Linked DNA regions of Homo sapiens: all the other regions are reported to be linked to region 1. Evidence: microRNA targets listed by miRTarBase, many of them from high-throughput screens and not tested one by one. Region 1 holds a microRNA gene; each other region holds the end of a gene's coding sequence.
What was found. Region 1 holds the annotated microRNA hsa-miR-1-3p (UGGAAUGUAAAGAAGUAUGUAU, at 4,107-4,128, opposite strand). A microRNA usually pairs through its seed, bases 2 to 8, with sites in the 3' UTR of a target mRNA and lowers its output. Matches are read on the target gene's strand: a 7mer-m8 pairs with bases 2 to 8, a 7mer-A1 pairs with bases 2 to 7 and ends in A, and an 8mer does both.

Region 1 (8,265 bases):
GAGAGGCCCAGTGTCCCCCCCAGCATCTCTGTCCTTCAGCATCACACACTTGCACCCCAATGGGGCAGCCCGCCTGGTGCAGGGAGCAGACCTGGCCTGAGGCTTAGTGGTGCCTCTGAAACCTGGGTGAATCAGTCGAGCTCACAGTGCCTTTGCAGTGACCGCTGTGTGGGAACCTCGGCCCTGTGTCCCTCTATCTAAGGGAGCCAGCGGTGGAGCTGCCAGAGGTGGCCCTCTGATCCCTGCCCTTGAGACGCGCAGCCCTGCATGCTTCCTGCGGTGTTCTGCAGCATCCCAGGCGGCAGCTCGGCAGCAGCCTGCCCCACTCCTCTGCTGCAGTCACCGCCCCTCCCCACTCAGCAGGACGGGCTTCCAGGGGTCAGAGCCGGCTGGGGACTCTGAGCACTAAAGGCAGAGTCCTCCCCAAAGGCAGAGTCCTCCCTGGGCACCCAGGGGCCTCCGGGGAGGGCCCTCCCAGCCCCAAGCTCTGGCCAGCTGGGCCTGGGACCTCAGGAAGGAGCAGACAGCACGAGGCTCTGGGAGCTGCTGATACTGTCTGCGGGTGCCTTCCCTTCCCAAAAGCCATGCCCAGCTCTTCCTGGGTGCGATGCCTCCAGTTCACAGGGACAGAGGCTGCTGGTTGGCCAAGGACAGTGGGCAAGGCCAGGGCCCCTCACAAAGCCCTGTGCTCCTGTCCAAGAGCCTCCCTTGCTGGGGCCCAAGCCCAGCCACCCCGAGGTCAGCATCCTGCCCGGGGGCATCAAAGGCAGGAGCAGGGCTGCAGAGAGCACGGGAGGCCTCTGCAGTCGGACGTGCACGGCGGGGCTGAGTCAGCACAAAATCCCTCAGGTTGCTGGGTTACCCTTCATGCGAAGGTGGCAGCGACTCACGGCATTGCACCGCCCCGCCCACCTCTGGCCATCCCTGCCCAGAAACCCTTCAGGCCAGCACTGCCCAGCCACGCCCTGGCCCTGAAGATGGCTCGGGCCACTCAGGTTCTCTCATTTTTACTTTAGAGCATTTTTTGGGTAAAATTTGCAATTCGAGTGATGTTCATTTTGATTGACTCCGGCTGCGGCATCTAAAATATCTGTCCTGTGGGTCAATCTAATCATGCTTGATAGCAGTTTATTCTTCGACGCAACGTTCCCCATGTGAGCCCGACAGTTTCACAGAGACTGCCGACGCACCTCTCGCGAATGCTCTCACCAGCCGCTGCGCCTGCTTTGAATGCTTGTGCAATAAAACACTGTATTGCACTTGAATGCACTACTAAGCCAGAATCACCAAAGGCCCCCTCTTTAGAAGGGGGTGCCACTATGTCCTCGGCCCCCTGGCTGCAGAAATGCAAGACCACTCATCGTGACACACGCGTGCAGGCACAGCAGCGGGGCCGTCCCTTCCCAAAGACCGTCCTTCTCCTGCGTGCAAGCTCCAGGACCCAGAGCCGGTCTCACTCACGGGTGGAAACAGTGCCTGGAGCATAGCTAGCTTTTGTGAGCCATAGGATAGAAAAAGGTAACTAATTTGGTCCGCTGAATTTATGAGCTCCACAATTTCTGCAGCGGCTGTTTCCACGAGCGGGAGCCTGGCCCAGCCTCTGATCACCGTGGGGCAGTTTCCAGAGTGTTCTGGGAAACCCAGAAGCCTACACCTGGTGCTACCTGCTCTAGGGAGTGAGAGACACCGGCACTGGCCACCTCCTCATGGCCACACAAACCCACCTGGGTTCCCGAGCTGGCAGGCGAGGGGGTGGGTGTCCCATGTCCAGCCCCCTCAGCCCAGTCCAGGCTCATTTCCCTCTGAGAGTCCCGGCCCCCATGGTAGCGTGCCTAAGCCGTCTCAGGAGAGTCCCTGCGGGCAAGACATAGCCAGTGAGGGTCTGTGCCCCCGCCCTGCCTGCTCTCCCCTCCTTCAAACGGACAGGCACAAAGACCCCCACAGGGGAAAGTCCCAGCGTGTCCATGCCCCACGCCAGTTTGGGGTTCCCGTCCTGGCTGCTGCCCGGGAGCCAAGCTTTAGAGATTCACGCATGGGAGACTCCAGCCCCGGGTCCCAGTGTCTCCAGGAAAGCAGCAGGATCCCCAGGGAGCACCATCAGGCCACACGTGCAGGGGAGAGGGGCTCGGGCTGCCATGGGCGGTGTCCGTGCAATGCTCATTTTTAATTCAGCAGATCAGAGACTGGAGGTGATTTACCGCCAAGCAGGCCGCAGCTCTCTCCCTGTGAACTCTCCAGTTTTACTGCTCAGTCAAACCTAATTCCAAAACACTAATGCTTTTATTTAAACACCACATCCTGCAATAAAGCTTTAATGTACAACAGCCGCATCTAGGGGAAAAGAACGGTGTGTCTGTGGCCACCGGCAGCCTCGGTGGCCACACGCCCGGCTACTTCCCTCCCTGTGGCCGGAGCTGGGAGCAGGCAGGGAAGAGATGACGTCAGCGGATGCTGGGCACTGACCCTCCGGGTCCAGAGGCCGAGAGGAGGCTGTGCCCGAGGTCAACACCCGCCCCCTTGCTGCTACGCCAGATGGGGCTGAGGCTGGGAGAACGAAGTTTCCAGAAGGAAGACCTGAAGGCCAGGAGCCCTGACTGCCAGGCCCTCCCCTCCAGTCACCTCGAGGCTCCCTGAGGGGTGGGAGCCACCTGAAAGCTCAGAACGGCCCCCAATCCCTTTATCCAGCGCTCCCTATGCTGGCCCCAGCTGCTCAGGTGACCTGGCTGCCCCCAGACCCAAGGCCTCCAGCCGCTGCAGGAGGGGGCTGCCTGCCTGTCCCTTCCCGCCTCATTCCTGCCGAAGGCCAGGGTGCGGGAGGTAGGGCACAGGGGCACCGCTGTGGCTGGAGCAGTGCCAAGGCAGAGAGGACACACACCCCAGAAATTAATCCTGAGGCCTGTGGCAGGGTGGGGGTGCCCAGGCAGGGACCTGGCCTCATCCCAGGTGGCAAACGCCTCCAATCTGAGACTCAGAAACGAGCCGGGCAAACGCCCCTCACACAGCAGCCCAGCCGCTGCCTAAGACCCCAGAACCCGCCGCCCATCCTCTCCTTGAAGGACCAGCACTGGGGAAAAGGGTTTCACGGACGGATCCGGACCTGCCCTCATCCCCTGGGCCCCAGGACATCCTCCCAGTCCTTTCTCGGGTCAGGACTGGGATGGCGGCAGAGCAGATGGCTCTCAGGCCCCCGACAGGTGGGGCAAGGGGCCCTGGGCCACACGCTGCTTTCTGCCAAAGCCTCACCTGCATTCACAGCAAAACATGCCTCAGGTTGGATTCGGCGGAACAGAGAGAAAGCTGAACCGGGGCTTTGGTGGGGGTACAGGTTGGGGCGGCATGAACCAGACATTTGGCAAAATCGAACGGCTCCCAGGCCCCTGGGGTGGGCTGTGGGTTCAGGGCTGCACAGACTCAGCTCCTCTGACCCTGTCCCAGGTGCCCTCGGCAGAGGAGTGGGGCCTAAGGGCAGTGGTGGCCCTGACCCTGCCCGCGTCCCCAGCATCTCGTGTGGGCTGCGCCTTCCTTGGAGGCTACATGCCTCCGAGTTCCTCTGCCTTGCCCTACAGCCGGGAGGGCTGGATGCAGGTGCAGGAGGTGCCTTCCCTCCGCAGACTCTACCATGTGCTGCCCAGCCTCTCCCTCCTTTCTGCATCCAGCCACCTGCCCTTTTCCAAACTCGCTCTTGTCTTGTGCCTCTGAGCAGTTTCTGCCCTGGCCACACGTGGCCCTTTCTGCCGGCTGATGGCCTCTTCCAGGATGGCCATCAGTGGAGCCCCCAGAGCCGCCGCCACCACTCCGTGCTTTCCAGCCACGGCCCCGACCCCCCAGCCCTCACCAGCCCCGCGCTGGACCCCGCGCCTGCCGGAGGCCGCCTCCCCTCTGCCGCAGTCAGCAAGCTGAATATTTAATGTCTGGTGAGCACTTCCACCTGCTGACACAGGCAAAGTGACAGAACAATGCTGGCGGGGACACGACCGTCCACCAACGCCCAGGCAGCCTGCCGCCCCAGCCTCACCCCCACCACAGCCGCCTGGCTGGCTGTCGGCCGCGGCGGCCCCCGTGGTGTGGAGTGCCCCTCAGTGCGGCGAGAGAGGTCCCGGCCTGAGATACATACTTCTTTACATTCCATAGCTTAGCAGGTCCATATGGGCATATAAAGAAGTATGTTTCCCAAGCAGGCAGTCTGCATGCAGTTCCAAGACCCCGGGACGCCGCCCCGGTAGAAGCTGACCCCACTGCGATGTAGAGAAGGCAGCTCAGAGGCAGTGTAACTTCTTCCCTGGAGTCTACTGCCGGAGCCCTCTCTGTGTGAGCAGGACAGCCTTCCTGCCACTGCTGCCTGGTGTCCAGCCACCCCCAGGGGCCCAGGACTCCCTGCCCCCTTCTGACCTCGGCGCCCCTCCATCCCTGAATCCATCTCTCTCTGTCTGTCTCACACACTCACACGATCCAGAAAGGCAGAAGTGGACAGTGAGCCCCAGAAAGTCTCGAGCGCCTGTCCCTGGCCCCAGCAGTAGCTCGGTTTTGCGTCCATGGAAGAGACAGGCTGCCCCTCCACCCTCACCCCAGAGCAGGGAGGCATCATCCATGTCCCAAACTTTCAAAGCCAACACTTTCCTGTCCCCCTGGGTCACCTCATCCCAGCCAAGCCCAGAGAGGGCTGGGTGGAGAGAGGAACCTTGGGGGGCGCCCTGCCCAGCACCCCACTCGCAGGACCAGCCTCCTCCTTCTCCGGGAGCTGGACAACTCCTTGCTCCTGAGGCCAGACGAGGAACTGCAGACCAGAGACCCGAGAGGTGTCCTGGGGGCTTACCTGGGCATCTGCTGGTTTCCTGGGCAGGTCCCTGGTGAAGGCTGCCTCCCGGGACCCCGTATCCATGAGGAAGGGCTCAGCACCTCTCTCCGAAGATGCAGGCGAGAAAGACGATGCTTGGAGGAGTCCAGGTTCCCAGAGGGTGGTCAGGATCTCCTGAGAGGCCGTCCACTAGGGGGGCAACTCCCTAGGTGCCTCAGCCTGGCCACAGCAGACACCCAGTGGGCGAGGGAGCGTCGCTCCCCCGGTTCTCTCCCTCCTTCTCTCGCTCTTCTTCACCCTCTCCCCCGTCCCCGCCTCGCAGCGTCACCACCCTGAACCGCCGCGCAGTGCGGCCCACCTGAAGCGGCAGCTGCGCAGAGCCAGCAGCTTACATGGGCACCGGGGGTCAGCAGCCACCGTCACCTGCCCAGCGCCACTGCCGTGGCACCCCCGGGAGGCTGGTCCCACACCTGGCTCTTTGTGGCCAGCCGCCCAGCCTCCACCAGCCCCTGATCAATACCAATTTACAGTCAAATGCAGGGGGCCGCCTTCCTGTTAATGAATTTCCCGGTGCTCACCAGCTCCTAATGAGCCTGTTAAAGAGGGTTTAAGTAAACTTAGCGAGTGGCAAACTAAGCACTTTGGAATACTTAATTGTATCGATATGTTTTTCATTGCGTTTAAAAATGTCTCTGAGTGGGAAGCAGAGGCTGCCTCCTTCCCTGCCAACTTCTATGACCAGCCGTGAAGCCAGACTCTGAAAAATGTGGAGAAAGAGCCAGAAGGAGACCAATGGGACCTCAAGGTTAGGCCCTCACCAGCAGGAAGGGAAGCCGCCCCGAACCTGCTGGGAGCGGGGAGAGGAGGAGGAGGAGGAGGAGGAGGCCTGCAGGGTTTCGAGGCCTCGCAGTGGCCCAGGGCGAGCCTGGCACGTGCGGTGGTGAGAGGTGGAAAGAAGGCTTTGCAGGTGCCTGGGGGGGACGGGGGCCAGGGAGGCGCCAGTTGGGGGTGCAGGCCGGGCACAGACACAGGAGGCTTGCTAAGCGGTGGGGTCCAGCTGGGCCCTGGCCCCTGTCCTGCCACTGACCCTGGCGTGGGGTGGGACAGCAGCCCCGGGACATGAAAGGACCTCCCGTTGTCCTCATCAGGAAGAGAGGTCCAACATGACTCTGTTGCTCCTCCAGGCAGCCCGTCCATGCGAGGGGACAGCCCGGAGCGAGTTGGTTCTCTCTTACCACCCAGGGCAGGGCAATGTCTCCGCAGAGCCTGCAGTGTGCAGAGGCCACTGAGCATGCTGTGGCTGTGTGGCAGTGGGTCTGCAGCTGGGCATGGCTGGGTTGGAGTTTCACGTGGGGGTGGGTGGGGGCGGGGGGTGGGGGTTGTGCTTAAGGCTCTGGAGGCATCCCCTCTACAAAGGAAGGAGCAAATGGCAGACAGAAGCAGAAGCTGATGTCCCATTTCCACGTAGCTGCTGTGATTTATCATTTTCACGTAGCCAAGGATACAAAAAGGGCACCCGACACCGCAGCCTGAGCTTCAACTTCGGGGGCACCTGGGTTCCGCCGCTCATCTGTGCCCTCCCAAGACCTCCGCAATAACCGTCCCCGGAGTCCAGGGAAAAGGCCTCCTCAACGTCCCCAGCTCCCTGGCACATGAGCTCTCAGAGCCTGGGACACTCCCGCAGCCTGGCTCAAGCCCCCACGACCTGTGAGGCATTCATCTGGACGGGGTCTGGGGGTCAAGGGGAAAGCTGGGAGTCCCAAAGGGCAGGAGAGTCACCCCAGACCCAGCCAGAGTCCACAGGACTTCTGCCCACTCACAAATGAATTGTAGTCACTTTTCAAAAAGTTTCCCGTCTGCATAGAAAAAGAGCACCCAGCCGCCTCCAAGCAGACCCCACCGTGAGCCGAGCTGGCTCCTGTGCCCGGGGCCTCCTCCGGGGCTCTTCAGCGGTGAATACCGCCCGGCCCCCGGCATCAGCGCCGCGGGAGGCCACGCGGGAAGTCAAGCTCCCCAGCAGGGACCTGCACAGACGCCGACCACCAGGGCTGCTCTCCCCGAAGCCCCCCTAGTCTCCGCCCACATGTGCCCCCCGCCCCCCACCTCGCCGCCCTGCCCCTGTAAACGCCTCCTGACCCTGACGTGGCTGGGAGAGCTGCAGAAGTGCCGAGTCCCGGCCGGGGGCAGCCTCGCCGCCGCTCAGCTCGGGAATCCCTGCCCCCCACCAGCACCTCAGTGGGGGATACTGCAAGTTCAAGGTAAGTTTAGCCCCACGCCCGGCTGCCGGGGCTTTGTTGCGGAGCGGCAGGTGAATCGCGCCCCCAGCCCAGCCCCGAAGCCCCCATGCCATCCACTGCCCGCGTGGGGGGCCGCTGCTTTCTTGCAAAATGCCCGCAAGTCAAAGTTCCTGCCTCCCAGCTGGACGCGCCCTCCAGGCCCTGCCGGCTGCTGGCTCTGCAGTTTTCCAAATGTGGATGATGCCGCGAGCCAAGAGAAAACTCCACGGCACCCCCGCCGGAGCCGCACGGCGCCGGCACCCGCAGCACCCACCTCGCTGGCAGGCACACCCCCCACCGCGGTGCCCGGCAAGTTTGCAGGGGCCGTCCCGGCGGCCCAGCGGTGGTGATGGGCTGAGCAGGACTCACCGCGGAGCCCAGGGCACCCCTGGGGCCGGGCTGGTGACAGCGGCAGCGGCGGCGGGCGCAGGGTCGCGGCTCCCTAGGAGATGCTGCAGCGGCGGCAGCACCAGCCACCTCCTCCGGGAGCCAATCGCGAATGCAGGGGTGGGGGCCGAAGCTCGATGCGTCCGCACTTGGTGGGGGCAGAGAGAGAAAGAAGACACCAGGCACCCCCTCTCCACACCCCTGCCCTTCCCCCAGCCCTCCTGCAGCAGCGCAGACTTAGCAGGAGGGAGATCTTGAGAGAGAGAGAGAGAGAGAGAGAGAGAGAGAGAGAGAGAGAAGGCGCTGGTGCAGAGTTAGGGAGAGGCGGCCGAGCTGCACACCTTGAGCCCCGGCCTCCTCCGAAGGGAACCCCTGCACCCCAGCGGGGTCAGCACAAGGTAGAGAAGGTAGAGGTCAGGGTGGAACAAAAGGGAAGGTCCCGCGGGTGTGCACGCTCTCGCAGGCACACAGCCGGCTCGCGGAGACACAGGGGCGGGGGAGGGGAGGGGAGGGGAGGGGAGGGCCTGACCTGAGAGGCCAGAGCGGGCGTGGGGGCCCCCCTCGGGTCAGGAGCCGGCCTCACCTTTGCAGTTCTTATATACCCGGCCAAGCATCCCAAACACGCGGCCCTGGCCAAGTGGCCCCCTCGGGCTGCGCTCCCTGACCATATTTAGTCAAGCAGGGGAAAAAATAGCCTGTCAGCTGGGCCGCGGCTGGCCCGGCCACCGGGAACAGGGTGGGAGCACCCACGCCATTGACGGCGGGTCCCGGGCTCAGGCTGCTGTCCTGCCCCTCCCGGCCCCTCCC
Region 2 (3,474 bases), not on the chromosome of region 1:
GTCCCTGCTCACAGCTGGGGGCAAATGTCTCCAGGAGAGCAAAGCCCTCACCTGGGCCACTTTCCACATTAGACCAGGAGAGCTGGAGGCTGCAGGGCGGGGCTCTTTGCGCTGCTGTCCCCAGACCCCTGTCCCCACACCCCTGTCCCCACACCCCTGTCCCCACACCCCTATCCCCACACCCCTGTCCCCAGGACCCCTGTCCCCACACCCCTGTCCCCAGACCCCTGTCCCCACACCCCTGTCCCCACACCCCTGTCCCCACACCCCTGTCCCCCGGACCCCTGTCCCCAGACCCCTGTCCCCACACCCCTGTCCCCACACCCCTGTCCCCACACCCCTGTCCCCACACCCCTGTCCTCAGACCCCTGTCCCCAGACCCCTGTCCCCAGGACCCCTGTCCCCACACCCCTGTCCCCACACCCCTGTCCCCACACCCCTGTCCCCAGGACCCCTGTCCCCAGACCCCTGTCCCCAGGACCCCTGTCCCCACACCCCTGTCCCCAGGACCCCTGTCCCCAGTCCCGGATGGCCCAAGATGCCGCCATGGATGGGCCAAGGTGGTGGGGGTGGGAGAGTGGGAGTGAGGGAGGGGTCCCCTCCCTGCTGGCTGCCTAGTTCCCACCCTGCCTTAGGACAGCAGCCCCAGCTGAGGCCCTCAGCTCCCCAGGGTGGCAGAAGGAGGGCATGACCTGGGGACCTGGGGACAAGCAGCAAGTCCTCAGCAGGCCACTCGGACCTCATCTTCCGTGTGATCTGGGGGTGGCGGCAGGACTCTGGGGGTGGGCAGGTGTGGGAAGCTGTGCACTGGCCCAGCTCCGTCCTGGCCCCCCAGGCACCCTCTCAGCCCCCACTCCTCTTCTGGGAGCCCATCTCCCCTCTCCTGGCCAGGTCCCATGACACCATCACCCCCATAGTGTCATCTGGGCTGAGCCCCTGGGGTACACCCCTCCGGCCCTCCCAGCTCCCCAGAACAGGCACCTGGAGGTCCAGCCTGACCCATGGTGAGGGGGCATGGGCTCCGAGCCCTGCTGCCTGCAGCCCCTACCTGCCTCTTAGCACCAGGGGCAGGATCAGGAGGTCCCAGAAGCAGGAGGATGAGACCATGGGGGCAGGCAGGTTGGAGTATCCTGTGCCCCGGCCCCTCGCATCCCTATGTCCCACCCTGGCCTCAGCCTCGGAACCTCTCGGGGCCGCTCTGCACACACCCAGCCTTTGGCTCTCCTGCCCCGAGCGGGTTTGGTAGTGGGCACCAGCTATCTGCAGGACCCCTCCCTTCCGCCCTTTCCACCCTGAGCCATGCCACAGCAGGACATGCGGTGGCTGCCCCAGGACGCCACAGTGCTCTGAGGCCCGGCAGCTGGAGAGGACATGGGTGCCTCCTTGAGAGGAGTGTGTAGGGAGGGAGGCTGGATGGGGGGAGCCCAGGTAGGAGGGCAGAGCCAGGCGCTGGCAGGGCCGGGGGGAGGCAAGGCAGGCACTTCCCCAGGGCTTCCTGGGGGCTCACAGCCCTTCAGAGACACCCCCAGCTGCAACCTCAGGGGCTGGGCACTAACAAGGTGTGTGAGGAACAGACTGCCAGGCTGGGAAGGACCACCATGCCCAGGAGGGCCTTCGTGGATGAGTAGGAGTTTGCCAGTGTTGTCGGCCGGGGAGCTGAGATCCAGGATCCCAGCAGCGTGTAGTGGGGTGGCTGGAGGGAGGCAGAGACCTTGAAGGCCAGCTGGTGTCCCAGCACCCCCTGCAGGATGCCCTGGGGCTGCTCTCTCCAAGGTAGGAAGGGGACACCCTGGCCGGTCAAGCCTGGAGGGTGTTGGGTGCTCTCTCTGGAGGGCAATGTCCAGGCCCCTCGAGTAAGCCAGGGGCATCTTACAGAGTCTGAAATCCAGCCCCCATCCTGCCTCGCTGGGGAGACAGGCCCAGACCATCTGCCTGGGCACCAGCTCAGCCAGACCCTCCCCATCAGCACACATGCTGGGGGCCACACTGAGGTTCCCCTTGGTTCGCAGGGCCTGCTCCGGGTGGGTGAGGGCATCAGGGCAGCTGTTCCTCCATCCCTGTTTCTCTCAAGGGCTGGGAGCCCTGTCAGCAGGGAGGGTTAGGCCTGCAGGCCCACCTCTGAGACCACCCCCAGCCAGCACAGTTTGTGACCCCTGCTCCCTGCCAGGCCTGAGAGAGGCCCTCCCACTGTCACGTGGCTCCCCACCTTGGGAGGGCACCCCACGGAGATGGGGCAGCTCGGCCAGGGTGCCCGAGCCTCTGGAGCTGCTTGGGGCTCAGAGCTGGGCGGGGCCTCAGGGTGAGCGGGGAAACCAGGCCCGGAGGGGCCAGCTGCCTGGCCAGGGCGGCCAGCCATCTCCCAGAGGAGGAAGGAGGCCAGGGCGAAACCTCTGAGTGAGGCTGGGGTGGGGGTGTGGGAGTCTGAGGATCCCAGGGTCTGTCTCTGTGGCACAGATGTGGGGCCAGGCAGGTGTAGAGACCACAGTTTCTTTTATTGTGACGGTGATTGGGGCAGCAGACAGTGTCAGGGAAGGGCGGAGGGCAGTGCAGCAGCCCCCAGGACCCTGGGAGCCAGGACAGGACCTCACCACAGGCAGCACAACCTCACCACGGGCACACACAGCTGTTGCGCTGAGAAGCAGGTGCAGGGGCAGTGGGAGCCTGGCAGCAGGGAGGGCATGGGGGGCACCCGGGACCCAGCCCCTCACCAGGGCCTGAGCTCCGGGACAGTGCAGGACCAGGGGAGGTTGGGAAGGGCCCTCAGGGACGCCGTGCACCTAGCCAATGGCACTCAGCGCATGGGCAAGGGTGTCCAGCTCATCCTGGACACCCTCCAGGGAGCGCCGCACGGCCTGGGGGCTGTCCAGCACGTCGATGGCCAGCGTGTACGGGTCGAACTTCACGGAGAAGGGGCGCTGGATGCGTGAGGCATAGCTCCTGGGGAGGAGAGCGGCAGAGCCCTCGTCAACTGGCGGGCAGAGTCTGCAGCCTCCAGGAGAGGGGAGGCCAGGGGCCGCGTTTCCACCTTCACAGTGGCTCAGAGCTCCCAGGGCTTTTCTGAGCCAACTGGTCACAGGCGGGACACTGAGGCCTCTTCCAGGGCTGGGTGAGGGGGTTCATGGGGGAGATAGGCTAGGCGCCTTTTCCACTAGAGACTGCCGGGCACCCCATCCCTCCCTGAACCTCCACTGGGCCTCCTCCAGGAAGCTTTCCTTGACCATATCCCTAAGCCTGTGGGTGGAATTCAGCACCCCTGTCCGCTGGACACATAGCCCCTGGCCTCAGTTTCCCCAGTGCATAAGAGGCTGGAGGGAAAATGATGAGACCTTTTATGAGGATGAGGCTAGAGGGCTTTGCTCCCCTCTCCTGACACTCTGGTCACTGCACCAAAGGCCCCCAGCCCTGGGGACCCCACTCCCGCCCTGTCCCCCACCTTGACTCTGTCTATCCCCCTGACTTCTCCCCATCCCAGGG
Region 3 (8,265 bases), not on the chromosome of region 1:
AGCATGGATGAGGGCATCCGCACCCGCTCTAAGTCAGCCAAAAGTGGGTGCTGCTGCGATTCTTCCAATCCTCTCCCTATACGAAGGGGCTAAGGATACCTGGGTGAAGGGAAGGAATGCACTGTGGTGTATATTTTTAAAACAATTGTTGGTGATGGGTTTGATAAAGAAGAAGCAGGAAACTTAGGTAAAAGGGATCAGAACATACGGTTTCTTCCTGTTGTGGAAAATGGACAAAAATAGGCCGGGCATGGTGGCTCACGCCTGTAATCCCAGCACTTGGTGGGAGGCCAGAGCGGATGGATCACTTGAAGTCAGGAGTTTGAGACTAGCCTGACCAACATGGTGAAATCCCGTCTTTACTAAAAATACAAAAATTAGCCAGGCATGGTGGTGGGCGCCTGTAATCCCAGCTACTTGGGAGGCTGAGGCAGGAGAATCGCTTGAACCTGGGAGGCAGAGGTTGCGGTGAGCAAAGATCGTGCCACTGCATTCCAGCCTGGACAACAAAATGAGACTCCGTCTCAAAAAAAAAAAAAAAAAAAAAATGCAGGCGTGGTGGCTCACACCTGTAATCCCAGCACTTTGGGAGGCCGAGGTGGGTGGATCGCCTGAGGCCGGGAGTTCGAGACCAGCCTGACCAACATAGAGAAACCCCGTCTCTACCAAAAATACAAAGTTAGCCAGGCATGGTGGCGCATGCCTGTAATCCCAGCTACTCGGGAGGCTGAGGCAGGAGAATCGCTTGAACCCGGGAGGTGGAGGTTGCAGTGAGCCAAGATCACGCCATTGCACTCCAGCCTGGGCAATAAGAGCAAAACTCTGTCTGAAGAAAAAAAAAAGACAAAAATAGTCTCAGGCACCAAGCATCCCAGCTTCCAGCTTCATTCAGAAGCGTGGGCACAGATAGTCAGCATGTCTTTGTTACTGAGTTGCCTTTGGCCTGTAACTCCAATGATTTGCAGGTAGGGAGTATAGAGCTGCTATCTTTAATGTAGATTTATAATTACCTCCGCTGTCTCTCAAATTCTAAGTCATTGGGACTGGAGTACTGGCTCTATACAGTTCCTTGGTTTCAGAGCTTTATTACTAACAAGACTGTATCTCCTTTAATCCCTGAACTCTCATCTCTCCCAGCTTCTGAACTGTTACAATACCAAACAATAAAGTTATTTAACTTTAAGTCACTCTTTGGAGACTGGATATAGTCAGGTACAGTGAAAGTCTGAGGGGTGGTGAACTCTGGTGAGTGGCACTGAGGAGAGGACAGGGGTACTTCCAGAAGTAAGCTCAGTGACACTCTGACTTGAAACCTTTTTCTTCCTTCCCAGACCCAGAACGCTGGACAAACATTCCTTTGCTGGTCAAGATCCTAAAGCTGATCATCAACGAGCTCTCCAACGTCATGGAGGCTAATGCCGCTCGCCAGGCCACTCCTGCAGAGTGGAGTCAAGGTGCACCAGGCCCTTACTCCCAGGAGACTTTTAGCCTGGCAGATCAAGTTACAAATTGTCAAATTATCAACTTGGTTTGTTGAGTCACTAATTGAAAAAAAAAGTTGATGGAATGGCTGCTCTGTGGCTGGCACCATGCTAGGCACTAGGCATGTAGAGCTGCTTCTCCAGTCTGCCATATGAAATCTCACAGAGGCTGGGGTGGGAGGCAGCCAGGAGGCAAGCTAACATAGCCCTTCTTTGGTTTGATTCTTCTTAAGAGCCTGTCAACACTTATATCTCCAGGTTCTTTCATTGAGACTAACCAGGAGGGTTTGGCCATTTCTGATTCTCTTTCACTGGGGACTACAAGCCACATTGCAGAAGCCTTTGGGGCCCTTCTATTCTGGCCTATTTGGATTTGGGGAGGGAAAATGCATGAATGTGCTCTAGCTCTAGCTGCTTTTCATCTCCAAGTAGATGACTCCAATGATATGTGGGAGGACCAGGAGGAGGAAGAGGAGGAGGAGGAGGATGGTTTAGCTGGCCAACTTTTATCTGACATTCTTGCTACAAGTAAATATGGTAAGCTGTTTGATAAGAGGACAGCCATGGTAAATACCTTTTCTTTGCACACTGATCCCAACAGTGGGGTACCCAAGAAAGGGGAGAGGTGGGCCCACAGGGACATTTCTTGGGCTTTTGCACCTTCCGCCTCAGTCATGTGGTAGTATATCACCACTCAGGGCCTGATCATGGGCCTTTGTCCTGACCCGCCCTGTGTTGGCTATGTCTAACAGAGGAGGATTACTACGAGGATGATGAGGAAGATGACCCTGATGCCCTGAAGGATCCTCTCTATCAGATTGATCTGCAGGTGAGGGTGTCCAGAGATATCTTGCAAATGACAATGTCCCAGGCCATGGAAACAGGAATATGGGCTCAAATCCATTTATAGCCAGGCATGGTGGCTCATGCCTGTAATCCCAACACTTTGGGAGGTCAAGGCGGGAGGATTGCTTAAGCCCAGGAGTTCAAGACCAGTCTGAGCAATGCAGGGACACCCTGTCTCTACAAATAATTTAAAAATTATCTGGGCATAGTGGCACACCCCCGTGGTCCCAGCTACTCGGGAGGCTGAGGTGGGAGGATCGCTTGAGGCCAAGAGGTCAAGGCTGCAGTGAGCTGTGATCATACCACTGCACTCGAGCCTGGGCGACAAAGCAAGACCCTGTGTTCAAAAAAAAAAAAAAATCCATTTATAATTTAACATGGGAGCCTCATGGGAAAGAGTTCCTGTCTTGTTGAGTGGTCCAGGGTTTTGGGTGGGCTGGAACTTTGCACTTGATGTGTTGTAATTCATCTTCTAGAGGCTATGTTGTGAAGGTCCTTGGGGTGATACAGCCTTGGAAAAATGTTGTTTCCCTGTGGATTACCTAAACTAGATCCAAGAACATGAAAGACCATCCCTCAGGGAGCTGGCATTTGTCTAAAAACCAGCATTCCCTGTGCCATTTGATTGTGGTTCTTGCTCCACTGCAAATGGGTGACTTGCAATGTCTCACTAATGCCACTCTTGCTCTTTCCTCCAGGCATATCTCACAGATTTCCTCTGCCAGTTTGCTCAGCAGCCCTGCTACATAATGTTTTCAGGCCACCTTAATGACAATGAGAGGCGAGTTCTACAGACCATCGGCATCTAAAAAGGGGAGCCTTTCTACATTTGCTCCTTCTGGGCCAGCCGCAAACCATTTTGCAGCCCTCACTGGCCTTGAGATGCACTTTCTTCTCAACCTAAAGTGGCATCTTGACCCTTGGCCCTTGGCCTCGGCAGTGACACTGATGACAATTCAGACCAGGCTCACCGGTGCCGTCACTTAGGAATGCTGGAACAAAGGACATTTCTCAAAGTTCCCCTGAAGACATGCCATCTCTAGAACCTTTTTTCTCCCCGACTCTACCCCCACCTCTGTTCCTAGAGCCCTCTGCTGGCGAGTCCAGAAACATTATTGCCCAGAAGGATTATGTGTTTATGGATTATTTTGCCCCGCCTCAGGAGCGCAGGAAGTCACTACCATTTATATTCTAAAACAGACCTATCTATGTTCATAGGACTTCTGATGTGTTCAGATAGGAATCCTCATGAGAGATCATTATGCTTTGTGCCCTGGACCACTGCTGCTCTGGGTTCTCAGGAGGAACAGGCAAGAGCAGCTTCATTCTAAGCCTTTCCAGTGACCTCAGCCTTGCTTCTCTTCTACAACACTAAGGCTCCTCTGTCAGAGGAGGTCGTCTTGTTTTTGCTTCATTGCATGACATAACCCTTCCCCTCAAGCTGTTCCTATATATACATGCACACACAAAATAAGCCAGACAGATGGCAATTTGATCTTCCTTTTTTAGAAAAAAAAAAAAAAATGGGGAAAAGGGATTTTTTTTAAATCCACCTGACCCAACTATATTTAATATGCCTCTCCCACACATTACCACAGAGTCTGATATTCAAAGGTTATCCCCTTTCCCTCAGGAAGCCTCTAAAGTGCTTAAGTTGTAGCCCTCAAATTTGCAACATGTATTTTTCTAGGACAGTAAAGTAATCTTTACAAATGAATTTAGTTGCATGGTATAAGGTGTCTCAGCACCTGTTTGCCTTCTATTCCCTTTAGAAGGTAAGTAAAAGTAATGGGGGAAAGGATTAGGTGGAGCCTGTCTAAACATTCTAGTGTGTCTTGGCAAACATAGCCTGAAATGATTCTTAAAGAACTGGCATTGTTTAATCAAATATTTTTAAGGGAGATTCCTTAATTGGGAAGTTTAGTCTGTTTGGGGTTCAAAGAGTAAATGAGGATTAGAAAATCATGGAGAGAGGCTGGGCGCGGTGGCTAACGCCTGTAATCCTAGCACTTTGGGAGGCTGAGATGGGCGGATCACTTGAGATCAGGAGTTTGAGGCTAGCCTGGCCAACACAGTGAAACCTGCATTTCTACTAAAAATACAAAAATTAGCTGGGCATGGTGGTGCATGCCTGTAATCCCAGTTAACTTGAGATGCTGAGGCAGGAGAATCGCTTGAACTTGGGAAGCAGAGGTTGCAGTGAACCGATATCACACCGTTGCATTCCAAGGCAAGACTCAATCACACACACACACACACACACACACAAATCATGGGGAGAAAGATGAAACCTGTGTTCCCCTTTTTTTGGTAGTGCCCACATCTGGTGCCCCATTTTTAATAACCACAGGATATTTCTTTAGATTGATATTCTCACAAAGAAGAAATAGAATATAGGCTGGGCGTGGTGTGTCACACCTGTAATCCCAGCACTTACGGAGGCCGAAGCCAGCGGATCACCAGAGGTCAGGAGTTCGAGACCAGCCTGACCAACATGATGAAACCCTGTCTCTACTAAAAATACAAAAATTAGCCAGGCATGGTGGCATGCACTTGTAATCCCAGCTACTCGGGAGGCTGAGACAGGAGAATCGCTTGAACCTGGGAGGCAGAGGTTGCAGTAAGCCAAGATCGCACCATTGCACTACAGCCTGGGCAACAAGAGGAGCGAAACTCTGTCTCAAAAAAAAAAAAGAGAAAGAATATAAAGTGAATCTGAATCTCCACTCAAGGGGATGGCCCCAAGGATATTGTAGCTGGTAATTTCTTCATGCCACTAGGTGTCCCCAGTGTTCAACCTCCATGACTGAGATTGGAAGAAGTAGAGTTAAAAGTTTTTACTACCTTTGAGAAGCCTGCGGGCATGTTCACAGTCGTCCCATGCCAGCCAGGTTCTGAGGCTAACTGCTTGTGCCCCTGCTGCTTCACATGGCATTGTGGGAGTTGCTGATACTGGGGAAATGATGGCAGATCTGACCAAGTGGTGCTGAGAAAACCACCCTCGGCCTTGCAGACTCCATAGTTTATCTCAAGGCAGTGCCAGTCGGATTTGGTGCTAAAGGCATAAGGCCAAGTCAGCCTCTGATATTGGCACAAAAGAATGGTCTCATGCCAGTAGCATTGAACTGCTGAGCTTGGGAAGGCTTAAGGCTCCCACACACAGACTGAGAATGATGGGGGTCCCTCTGCGTCTGCTAATTAGACAAACATTCTATATCTAGTGCCAAAAGTGGTCCTAAATCCTTTGGCAAGGGTCCTTTCTGCTCTCATGCTGATTTGGGGGAGGACTGGGCATCCTGCCTCAGGAGAACTTGAGTCCTGAGGAAAGGGCCCTAGTAACACTTAAGGGCTACCCCTGGCTAACAGATACTCGGCTGTGGGTGAGAGCAGAAGGTCTTGGACCCCTCGATGTGCAGGTACTTAATTGTGTTTCCAGTGCATTTTCATATACATTATCCCATTTAACCTTTATAACAGGTTCACAGAGTGGATATTCCCATTCTGTTGATGAGAAAAAGAGTGGAGAGACTGTGTCCAGTGTCAGCAGGAAGAAAAAAGATCTGTTGGAGGCCAGTACATGTTGACAGAAACTCTAGACCATATTTTGTCTCCTGTCTTTGGCCAAAGAGAACTAGCTTCAGTCTGAAAAGGGCAGGGCTAAGTGGTTACAAGGAACTAAAAAGTTCAAGGTAAGACAAATGAGGTAAAAATAAAAAAGAGCACTTAGCTGCTCTGAGACATTTTAGTCTCCTGACTGGTAAACAGCAGCTGGGGCACCAAGGGGCTCCCAGGAGTTTGTCGAGCTTTTATTGGAGTGAACTGAAAGGAAAATGGAAGGAATGCTATAAGACTGAAAAGAAGTTAAAGCCCTAGGAAGGAAGCTGATAACACAAGTTACAGACGTATATGTGACATTGATTTGGGAGAATGAACCTACAACAAATGACCCAAAAGCACCTAAATAAGAGTGACGAGAGTTTAACAGACATTCATTATGGACTTCAGAGAAAATGATGCTAAACTGGTCTTAGAATCTTCTTTAATTTTGTTAACTAGGTAAATAATCTGGACATTTTAGTCAAAGCATTAGACAGACAGAGAAGTTGGTAACTGACCACTAACTAACAAACTATAAATTCACCCATTGTGGGTTGACCTGGTAAGTTCCCCCAGGGCTGTGTCCTTGGCCCCTCCTTTGATATTAGTGACAGATGACTTTTTTTATGCCTTACCCATTCCACAAAAGAATTTGAAGCCATTTACACAAGAGATAGTACTAGTAAATTAGGAGTGCTGATCAAATTTTTAGATAATAAGAAACCCTTAGGAAGGATGACAATTTAGAATCCAAATTTAGGATCCAAACAAATACCATTACAAACTATAAAAATGAGCAGAATCTAAATGTAACATTTCAATAAATGCAGATTGATAATAACATCTGTGCAGAGTTGAGGACTATAGAGTACTGTGCTGTCACTAACAGTATTGTGTGCTACTAAGAGTTTAATGGCTGGGTGTGGTGGCTCACACCTGTAATCCCAACACTTTGGGAGGCCTAGGTGGGTAAATCAGCTGAGATCAGGAGTTCGAGACCAGCCTGGCCAATGTGGTGAAACCCCGCCTCTACTAAAAATAAAAAAATTAGCTGGGCATGGTGGCACGTGCCTGTAATCCCAGCTACTCGGGAGGCTGAGGCGGGAGAATCACTTGAACCTGGGAGACAGAGGTTGCAGTGAGTCGAGATCACACCATTGCACTCCAGCCTGGGCAACAGAGCAAGATTCTGTCTCAAAAAATAAAGTTTATTATGCCAGGAGGGCCAGGTGTGGTGCCACACCCATGTAATCCCAGCACTTTAGGAGGCTGAGGAGGGCAGATCACTTAAGCCCAAGAGTTTGAGACCAGTCTGGGCAATGTGGCAATACCTTGTCTCTTAAAATTTAAAATAAAAAAAAAGTTTATTATGCCAGGAACTGTTAATGTGTCCAAAAAAACTCCAGTGTGGTTCTAGGATGAGATAATAAAAACAGGTTGTCTAGGGTAGTGTGGAAGGTCCTTTCAGTCTTCCTGTGCCTATCAGTGATCCTCATTGCCATGTTCCCTTCTGGTGCTCAACCGGAGGCTCCCTGACAGATGAGTCCTCTGCCAGAGGAAGGCTAAGATGTAGAGGACAAATCGTGTCAAGGAAAAGAAGCTTGAAGGAGCTAAGAATGCTTAGCTTAGAGAAGACAAGAGGAAACAGGACATGGCTTTGGGAAGTTCAAGGATGGTCCAGTGAAATACATACTATACTTTTGCACCCCAGCTAAGCTGACCCATGATCAGTAAGTAGGAAATAAAAGGCCAATTTCTGGCTACTCTTGCCCCCAACCCCATTTCAGTGAACTATGAACCTCTATTAGATATGCAAGGCCGGTGCTAAATGCTGGAGGGCTTTGGCCCTTTCCCTCAAGGAGCTAGTCTAGTAGGGGGTCAGAAATACAGATGGGCCTGAACATAATGATGGTTTGACTTCCAGTTTTTCAACTTTAGGATTGTGCAAAAGCTATACACATTCGGTAGAAACAGTACTTCAAGTATCCATACAATCAGTACAGTATTCAATAAATTACATGAGACATTCAACACTTTATTATAAAATAGGCTTTGTGTTAGATGAGTTTGCCCAACTGTAAGCTAATGTAAGTGATCTGAGTAGGTTTAAGGTAGCCTAGGTGTATTAAATGCATTTTTCACTTAACGGTATTTTCAACTTTTGTTGGGTTTATTGGGATGTAGCCCCATTATAAGCTGAAAAGCATCTGTAGTATAATAAATGTGGGGAGTGCTGTGAGAGAAATAAGTGTACTGGGTTTAGTTCCCACTGCCCAAAAAAGGAACTGGCTAATGGTAACCTGGGGGAGGAAGTCGGGTAAGTTGCATGGAGAAGGCAACC
Region 4 (8,265 bases), not on the chromosome of region 1:
TTGACTATGATGTTTTCAACTTATGATGGGTTTATTGGGAGGTAACCCCATTGTAAGTTGAGGAGCATCTCTGTTAACATGTCAGAAGGCATAGACATTTTTGACGGTTTTTTGGGATATGATTTAAAAATGTAAACGTTTTCAAACATAAAAAATAGGGATGATGGTATAATGAACTATCATATGTCCATCACTGGCTTCAGCAGTTAACCATATCATGTCTAATCTTTTATCTCTACCTCAGCCTCCTTTCTCTACCTCTGGATTAGTTTAAGGGACATCCCAGATTTTTAATCATTTCATCTGTTAATATTACATTAAATCTGGATAGCATTTTGCCAAGTTGATCCCAGAATGGTTTACCAACTTATAATGCCACTAGCAGTTACTGATGCAGTGGTTTATCTGTGATCCCATAAAGATGGCCTGTTGTGCTCTAAAAGTTTTGATAGCTTCAGTAGGTCTCAAGTGGAATCATCGAGTTGCTTTAGTTTATATCACCTTTTATGAATAATTTTCCTTTGCACATTTTTCTGTTGGGATCCCATGGGATGGAGAGTTTTAAGCCCTAGCCTTGCCACATGAGAGCCAGCCTCTTTCTCAGCTTCCAGCCCACAGAATAGGGCTGTTGCCGCTGTTTCTTACTGTATAGAGAGCACAGATATTGCAGACGTGGTTGTTTAGGGCACTTCTGGAAATGAGTCCATCCTTGCCCTTGGCTCTCGTCAGTAGAGTAGAAGTAGCACTCTCACAGGCAGTACTCGGAATGCTTGCCGCCCACATAAGGGGCTGAGTCAGTAGGCATTATGGCCAGCCTGCCTCAGAGTGGTGACCAGGCAGCCCCCAGACTTGCTTGCTGTGGAAGGGTCAAATGGGTTTGTGGTCGATACACAGCAGCTTGTGTTGACAACCAGATGGGTGCTTTGCCACCTCCATGCCATCCTGTCTGCCAGGGTCTCACTGCCTAGAGCTAGTCCACAAGAACCCTCCTAGTCATGCACAGAGCTGGTTAAGGCTCTCTCTTCAGTGTGATTGGGACCAGTGGTTGGTCAGCCAATTGAGAAAGTACAGAGTACTGTAGACGTATTGTAAACATTGTGCTGTGATTTAACCCGCTAGTGGGTGTTCGTTCGGCTCTCCTATAATGTGGGGTTGAGGTGTTTGCTTTGAGTTGGCTCCTTTGGTTGGAGTCTTCTATTTCTGTCTTGTAGAGACCATCCTCATGACACGTCATTGCACTGCAGTTTCCAGGGGTAAGTCCAAGAGCAGACTTCTAGATTTGGGGACTATAGTCCTCCCATCCTCCCATCTTTTATAGTTTTCTTAATTCCCTGATTTGATGGTAATTTGTAAAAGTAACCTTCCTTTATTTAGTTTTTCCTGTAGTATCTTAGTTGCCATAGAAACTGTGTCTGCCTTTTTCTCATTCACATTTTGACCATTTATGTAATATTAGTTAAATTAGGCAATTATAATAAGTGTGACCTGGAAGCATCCACAGCTGACTCTGGCAAGGACTGAGCTCAATGCAGGAGCAGAGCTCAGCAGGAGCCACAAGAGAGTGGCCTGGTCCTGCAGCCAGGGGACCTCAGCATGACTTGCAGGGGCATCAGAATGTAGATTTTCCATGGGACCTTTTCATTAGGTCAGCTCACAAGTTCTATTGTGTTACATTTGGCTAGTTGGAGTTAACATTACTGAGCATTTTAAAATGTCAGGGCTGTGAAAGTAAATGCCGTAATTCCCTAGTTTTGAAATTTAAACATTGCAAAAATAATCACTTGCTTCCAGTACTGTTACCTGTACCAGATCAGCCCTTAGATTTACGATGGTTTCATTGTACTACTCTGTGCCTTTTGAGTTTTGTCATTCATCATCCTCTGTTGTATTTGAGGCATTAGTGGGTATAAATGCATACTGTAGCCAGAGTGCCTGGGTTTGTGTGCCCTTACTGTCCTTAACTGCTGTGTGCCTCAGTTTGCCCATCTGCAAAATAGGGATAAAAGTGCACTCAGTTGAGTAAGAGCATTCCAATGTATGTAGTGCTGTAAGTGGCTGGAAATGTTCACCTTTGTTACCACTGCGGGTTTCACTTCTGCTCTTCATCCACATGTGCACATCACTAGTGACTAGTTTTTTTTCTTTTCTTTTTTTGTGTGTTTGAGACAGAGTTGCACTCTGTTGCCCAGACTGGATTGCAGTGACAGGATCTCAACTCACTGCAGCCCCCGCCTCCCAGGTTCAAGCAATTTTCATGCCTCAGTATGGGATTACAGGCATGCGCCACTACCCCTGGCTAATTTTTTTTTGGTAATTTTTTAAGAGACAGGGTTTCACTGTGTTGGCCAGGCTGGTCTAAAACTTCCGGCCTCAAGTGATCCACCTGCCTCAGCCTCCCAAAGTGCTGGCATTACAGGTGTGAGCCATCAAGCCTGGCCAGCCAGCCTTTGAACCATTAAAGGAATAGAGGATCAAGGAGGAAAGTTAACGCTATTAATACCTGAGCAGTTTGAAAGCTACTTAGCTACTAGGCATTATAGCTGTGAAGCATGGAAGAGAGCAAACAGTATATTTCCAGTTGTAAATTTTAATCTTGCAAATTAAATACTAAATTTGTCTGTGGTTTGTTTTTTTGAAGTTTTCACCTCTAACATAAATATTTATTTTTTCTCTATAAAGACATGCAGTAAAAAAGAGTAGGCCGGGCCGGGCGTGGTGGCTCATGCCTGTAATCTCAGCACTTTGGGAGGCCGACGCGGGTGGATTACGAGGTCAGGAGATCGAGACCATCCTGGCTAACACGGTGAAACCCCGTCTCTACTAAAAATACAAAAAATTAGCCAGGCGTGGTGGTGGGCGCCTATAGTCCCAGTTACTCAGGAAACTGAGGTGGGAGAATAGCTTGAACCTGGGCGGTGGAAGTTGCAGTGAGCTGAGATCATGCCACTGCACTCCAGCCTGGGGACAGAGCAAGACTCCTTCTCAAAAAAAAAAAAAAGTTATATGTGCAGATTTAAGGCTTAATTTAAAAATTGGTTTGCGTGCATACTAAGAAGCTCATTTGCTTTAAGTGAGCATTTCCTTTTTGGGCTTTTGTTGGGCACTGTGTGTCTCCCATGTTCCCCATTTGTCTGCCACCCAATAAGCATGGTGTCGAGGGCTGAAGTAGAAATCAGAGGCTAGAATCTGAAAGCTTCATTAGGGTTCTGCTTTTTGCAGATTAGGGACTTTGGCCCTTAGTGAGCTGAGGATCTTGGTTTCCTCCCAGTGTGCGGTTTCAGGGATGTCGGCCACATGATGTGCCTGTTGTGGAGGAGGGCTGGGTCGCCAGTGTGACAGGAGACAGCAGATCCCTTTTGTGAAAGGAGAACTGGTACTTTGCGTGATGTTAAACTTCACAAACCGCTGCTCAGAAATCTGCTATTTTCCTTCTCTTTTAGGACTTTATGGACAGCAGCCTGCTAACCAAGTCATCATTCGAGAGCGCTATCGAGACAACGACAGCGACCTGGCACTGGGCATGCTGGCAGGAGCAGCCACGGGCATGGCCTTAGGGTCTCTATTTTGGGTCTTCTAGGGGCCTCAAGGTCTTGATGTGCATAGCTTCTGATAACCCTGTGTGCAATAATATGATTTGCAGGGCATTTCTGTTTGTGACAAAAGTTTTTAATAATAGTTTTAATCATTCCTTTGAAAGTAGTGATGTCATAATTGTACTAATCCACATAAGTACCACAGAGAAGGGTTTGAACTGTGCTATTTTGTTCAAATGTTGACTCTCCGGGGGCACTGGCTCATTCCAAGACTGTTCTTGTGCAACTCTCAGAATACCTTATTTGAGCATACCTGTTTTGAAAGGCATTTTCTTTTTAGAGTTAGGTGTAGTGCTTAAGGGTTAATTTATTTTCATGTTATGCCAGTAATATAGTGTTGTATGCCTATTGAGTGATTGTGGCAAGAAAAGCTACAGCTTCTTTGCGTTTAACTTTTTCAAACCACAGACCAGAACTGGTTGCATGTTACTTTAGGAGTTGTGGGTTGGTAAGCTCCCAGGTACTTCCCGAGGCTATGGTGTGAGAGCCCCCGTCCTGCCCTCTGGGGCTCCACAGGCCCCTGGCAAGGCCGATGGCTCAGGATGATGGGGCACAGCCCGCCTTTGAACAATCATGCTTCAGAAATCTGCCTGACCCTAGCTGCTGCTGCTGCTCACTTTATTCTTGTATGGCTTTGGTAGGCATACTTGGAGAACATATCCCACATTAGGAATTGATTTAAGCCTGAGAGTTTGAGGGCTTTAATCCTTTAAAACTTGGAGAAGCTGGCTGGGCGCGGTGGCTCACGCCTGTAATCCCAGCACTTTGAGAGACCGAGGCGGGCGGATCACGAGGTCAGGAGATCGAGACCATCCTGGCTAACACGGTGAAACCCCATCTCTACTAAAAATACAAAAAATTAGCTGGGCGTGGTGGCAGGCGCCTGTGGTCCCAGCTACTCGGGAGGCTGAGGCAGGAGAATAGTGTGAACCCAGGAGGCGGAGCTTGCAGTGAGCCAAGATAGTGCCACTGCACTTCAGCCTGGGTGACAGAGTGAGACTCTGTCTCAAAAAAAAAAAAAAAATCCTGGAGAAGCCAGAACAATATACAAACAAGTATGTGGAGGCAGATTTGCTTTATTCCAAGAGGCTGTTTGAGTGTGTGTCTGCCTAAGCCTCCTTATAGCCTATTTTTCTACTTGCTGAGAGAGTAATATTAAAGGAACAGTGAGGGAGTGGAAGGAGAGCCTTAGTTAGAGCGTTCCCATTTCTGGCCTTTGGGGGTTTGCACTGTGCGGGAGATGCTCTCTCATCACTCTGAAGGCCCATCCTGTGCAGAAGTGGGACTCTGTGGCTGTTCACTGAGCACCAGGGCAGACTGTAGCTGAGCAGACTTGGGTTATGGATGGGATATGGGGCCCAGGGACCCTCAGGACACAGGGACCGGCTCAAGGTACCACTCAGCCTGGCCAGGACCCCCAGCTTTGCTTTTGTTCTTGATCTCTTTGTGATAGAGAAGCTTAGAACATTGAATTTGGAACCCCAAAATGTGTGAGTCTTTGGAAAACCCATTCCAGCCTTTCTTCAAATGCTCTTATTTTCAGTATATGAAGTGTGTATTTGAAATATTCATATTTCTGTTATTTCTTGTTTTCAAGCTCTGAATTATTGCAGTTTTCTGTCCTGCATGCTTTCAACAGTGTGCTTTTACAGTGGCAGTTTAGCACAGCGAATGTCCCTGCCCCACACTCCATATGGTCCTGTTTTCCTGAAAATACACTCCAGGTAGCACAGACTTGTTATTTTGCCTGGCTGGTTACACACATGCTGTCTTGCTTTGCTGCTCAGCCACCTCCCTCTGAGGCCAACTTAGGCCAACCTACATAGGACTCCATCTTTAGCGAGACACCAGAGACACCTAGTGATGACCACGGGTCTGCTTTTCTCTCTGATCCTAGGGGACTTGTTGACATGGGAGTGTCTGTTTCCACATGGAAGGATGTCTGTTTATCTCTCATCTCTGAATAGATGTATGACAACTCTAGTGTCCATGGTTTAAAATGTTGCTTTGAGGATTTTCCATCCTGTATAAGAAGAATGGCTTTCTTCAGATTATAATCGTTATTAAAGCTGTATGTACACTTTACTTAAAAACTATTAACAGTTTTTCATGTTGCACTGGTGGTAATTTTGAACTTGGAATTACTGGGTGGGAATTCCAGGAACCACAGAGTATTGATTTTTGCTGCCAAAATGCTCTTGAAGCAGATGTCCCTGTGCTCCCCTGGCTGCTTCTGGCTGAAGGGGGGAGGTGTAGACTGAAGCTTGGGCACTCATGTGTGTCCCCTCCCCAGTCCCCATCCTAGTGGGGCCAGTCTCATTAGGCAGCCATAGATAAGCCTGGAACTTGGCTGTCATTAGTGACTTGATCCTGGTATGAAATGCATACTGGGTATAAGGTTGCTCAGGTATTTTATTTCCTTGGCCACAACTCCCATAGATGCCAATGTTTTGATAGCCTCAGTTTCTCAACGATGTCTTTTGTTTACAGTGCTACACTTAGTGTGAGTCAAGAAGTGCTTGAGTTACAAGAAACTTCTTATTCAGGTTTGAGTAAGCATTTTACTTCCATGTGTACTTTTAAATAATCCATACCTTGAAGAAGTTGGCCAATGATATTATATACATGCTGATCTGATTGTTCTTTTCATTCCTTGAGTCAACTTCAGGGTCTTGGATACTAAAGAGAAGGAGAACTGTGGTTAATGTTTTGGATCATCATTTGTGAACAAGGCCAGACTTTGCCCATTTTAGGCTATCCAGGACTTAAGGTAGCCATCTGGATCATAAGAAGGTCCTGCAGTTGAGACAAAATGACCCAAGTGTATTTTCCACAAGTTTTGATCCTGTGTAATATTTCTTTTTCCTTCCCTAGTGTATGTAGATACAAGGCATGGAATGCAGTTCCACTTTCTCCCCAGAGTTGATCTTTTTGTGATTGCTTTCCCGTCTCTAGTAGTATTCTGTTGTGTCTAGAGAACTGATTTTTTCCTACATACGCAAATTGTACATTTGTAAGTGAAAATGTCAATACATTAAAGCATTAACCTTAAAGCATGTTTCATTGTGACTTCTGTTGTCTTTAAAAAATTACTTTGTAGTAACATACTCTCAGCTTTTTCTGCTGTCCTGGATCATAAGAATGCCATTTATTGAGGACCTACCAAATGCTAGTATATTGTCACATTAGAGACAACTCACTGAATTCTTAGTGACTCTGTAAGGGAGGTATTATCCAAGTTCCACTGGAGGGACCGAGGCTCAGAAGTTAAATAATTTACTCAGGAGCGTGCAGGTAGTAGGTCTCCACATCTGATGTTAAAACGCCTTGTTGTTCCCTGTGCCGTGTGCATATGAGAATTTGATTTCCACAAACAGCAGTGGCCCGTGCAGTCACACTCTTGGGATGGCTGTGAGAAAACGGACACTATTTTTCCCAACCAGATCCCTCTGGCAGTGTGTGTCCAATAACTTCTCCAGCATCTTTGGATATATGACTTTTTTGTTTTATTTATTTATTTATTTATTTATTTATTTATTTAGAGACGGAGTCTCACTCTGTTGCCCATGCTGGAGTGCAGTGGCGTCATCTCGGCTCATTGCAAGCTCTGCCTCCTGGGTTCACGCCATTCTTCTGCCTCAGCCTCCCAAGTAGCTGGGATTACAGGTGCCCGCCACCACACCTGGCTAATTTTTTGTATTTTTAGTAGAGATGGGGTTTCACCATGTTAGCCAGGCTGGTCTCAATCTCCCGACCTCATGATCCGCCCGCCTTGGCCTCCCAAAGTATTGGGATTACAGGAGTGAGCCACCACGCTCGACCGAAAAGCTCTATTTCTTGTTCAAGTCGCAGTCCATTGTGGGTTCATAAGGGATGAGAGGCTTCTGCTCCAGGCTGTCATTCAGGGACCAAAACTGCTTTTATCTCTTTGCCTTGGAATCTGCTGTGGGAACTTATACAACCTGCTGGAAGAAAAGACAGTGAAGACACACCCATCCTCAGCTCTGGAGTGGCGCTCCCCTTCCAGTGGTGAGGGCTAATCATGTGGCCTGGGCTCAGTGCTTGAGGTCTGGGAAGTATCGTCTGAACCCAGGAAGAAATGGCCCTCGCCTCAGCTGCTGATAACAGGCCGTAGTTAATGACAGATCATGATCATCAAGTATCGCCAATTCTCGGTGGAAGTTGGGTTTGTATTTACTTTGTACAGTTTTTACTGATTAATAAAGCCAGTGGTTGCAAATTACAAGCAAATTGTTAGTTCACACAACACAAATGTCATTTGGTCACTGATATTTTCGTTGCTGTTAAATCGTTTCTTTCCCCACTTACCAACTGTTGTGGATGGGCCTAGAGAAGATATTCACCCTTTCCAGCAAGGAATATAGTTCCTCCATCCATTTGTCCTTTATTACATTACAGTCATGCTGAGGATGACTGCGTTATTGCCCCTGGTTGTCCTGCTCCCCCTTCCCTGTGAGCGGCCTATAAGTTCCTGCCTGGTGCTGAGAGCCTGCCCATGCCATCTTGCCCACCGGAGGAACAGAGTCCAAGCCTAGCGGGTGGTGTGCCATGCCTGGGGGAAGGGGGTGTGAGTGTGTCATGTTTGAGCAGGTGCTGTAGGAAGCAGAGGGGGCTTCTCCAGCCTTCTCATCCTTTTCACCACTGCAGGAGC

Region 2: miRTarBase lists TH as a target of hsa-miR-1-3p. The part of its 3' UTR that is shown has no 7-base or 8-base seed match.
Region 3: miRTarBase lists IPO9 as a target of hsa-miR-1-3p. Seed matches in the 3' UTR shown: 7mer-A1 at 4,549-4,555 and 7mer-A1 at 6,561-6,567.
Region 4: the mRNA of PLEKHB2 is a reported target of hsa-miR-1-3p. Seed matches in the 3' UTR shown: 7mer-A1 at 3,796-3,802 and 7mer-A1 at 5,102-5,108.

What each region holds. Positions count from the first base shown.
Region 1 is chr20:62,550,214-62,558,478 of GRCh38, reverse strand. It overlaps MIR1-1 (microRNA 1-1), which reads right to left and starts at 4,173; the gene lies at 4,103-4,173. It overlaps MIR1-1HG (MIR1-1 host gene), which reads right to left and starts at 8,026. Exons shown (of 4, transcript NR_171007.1): 1 at 7,441-8,026; 2 at 4,814-5,014. CRMA (cardiomyocyte maturation associated lncRNA) reads left to right here and starts at 6,918. Exons shown (of 7, transcript NR_033263.1): 1 at 6,918-7,053. RefSeq lists enhancers at 1-17, 888-1,759, 7,064-7,939.
Region 2 is chr11:2,161,456-2,164,929 of GRCh38, forward strand. It overlaps TH (tyrosine hydroxylase), which reads right to left. Exons shown (of 13, transcript NM_000360.4): 13 at 2,474-2,937. The coding sequence ends at 2,778. Among named protein-coding and RNA genes, the nearest start is that of INS-IGF2, 2.0 kb to the left of the region's middle.
Region 3 is chr1:201,872,919-201,881,183 of GRCh38, forward strand. It overlaps IPO9 (importin 9), which reads left to right. Exons shown (of 24, transcript NM_018085.5): 20 at 1-43; 21 at 1,332-1,454; 22 at 1,914-2,018; 23 at 2,234-2,310; 24 at 3,026-8,265. The coding sequence ends at 3,136. Among named protein-coding and RNA genes, the nearest start is that of SHISA4, 12 kb to the right of the region's middle.
Region 4 is chr2:131,143,197-131,151,461 of GRCh38, forward strand. It overlaps PLEKHB2 (pleckstrin homology domain containing B2), which reads left to right. Exons shown (of 8, transcript NM_001100623.2): 8 at 3,441-6,649. The coding sequence ends at 3,577. Among named protein-coding and RNA genes, the nearest start is that of PLEKHB2, 42 kb to the left of the region's middle.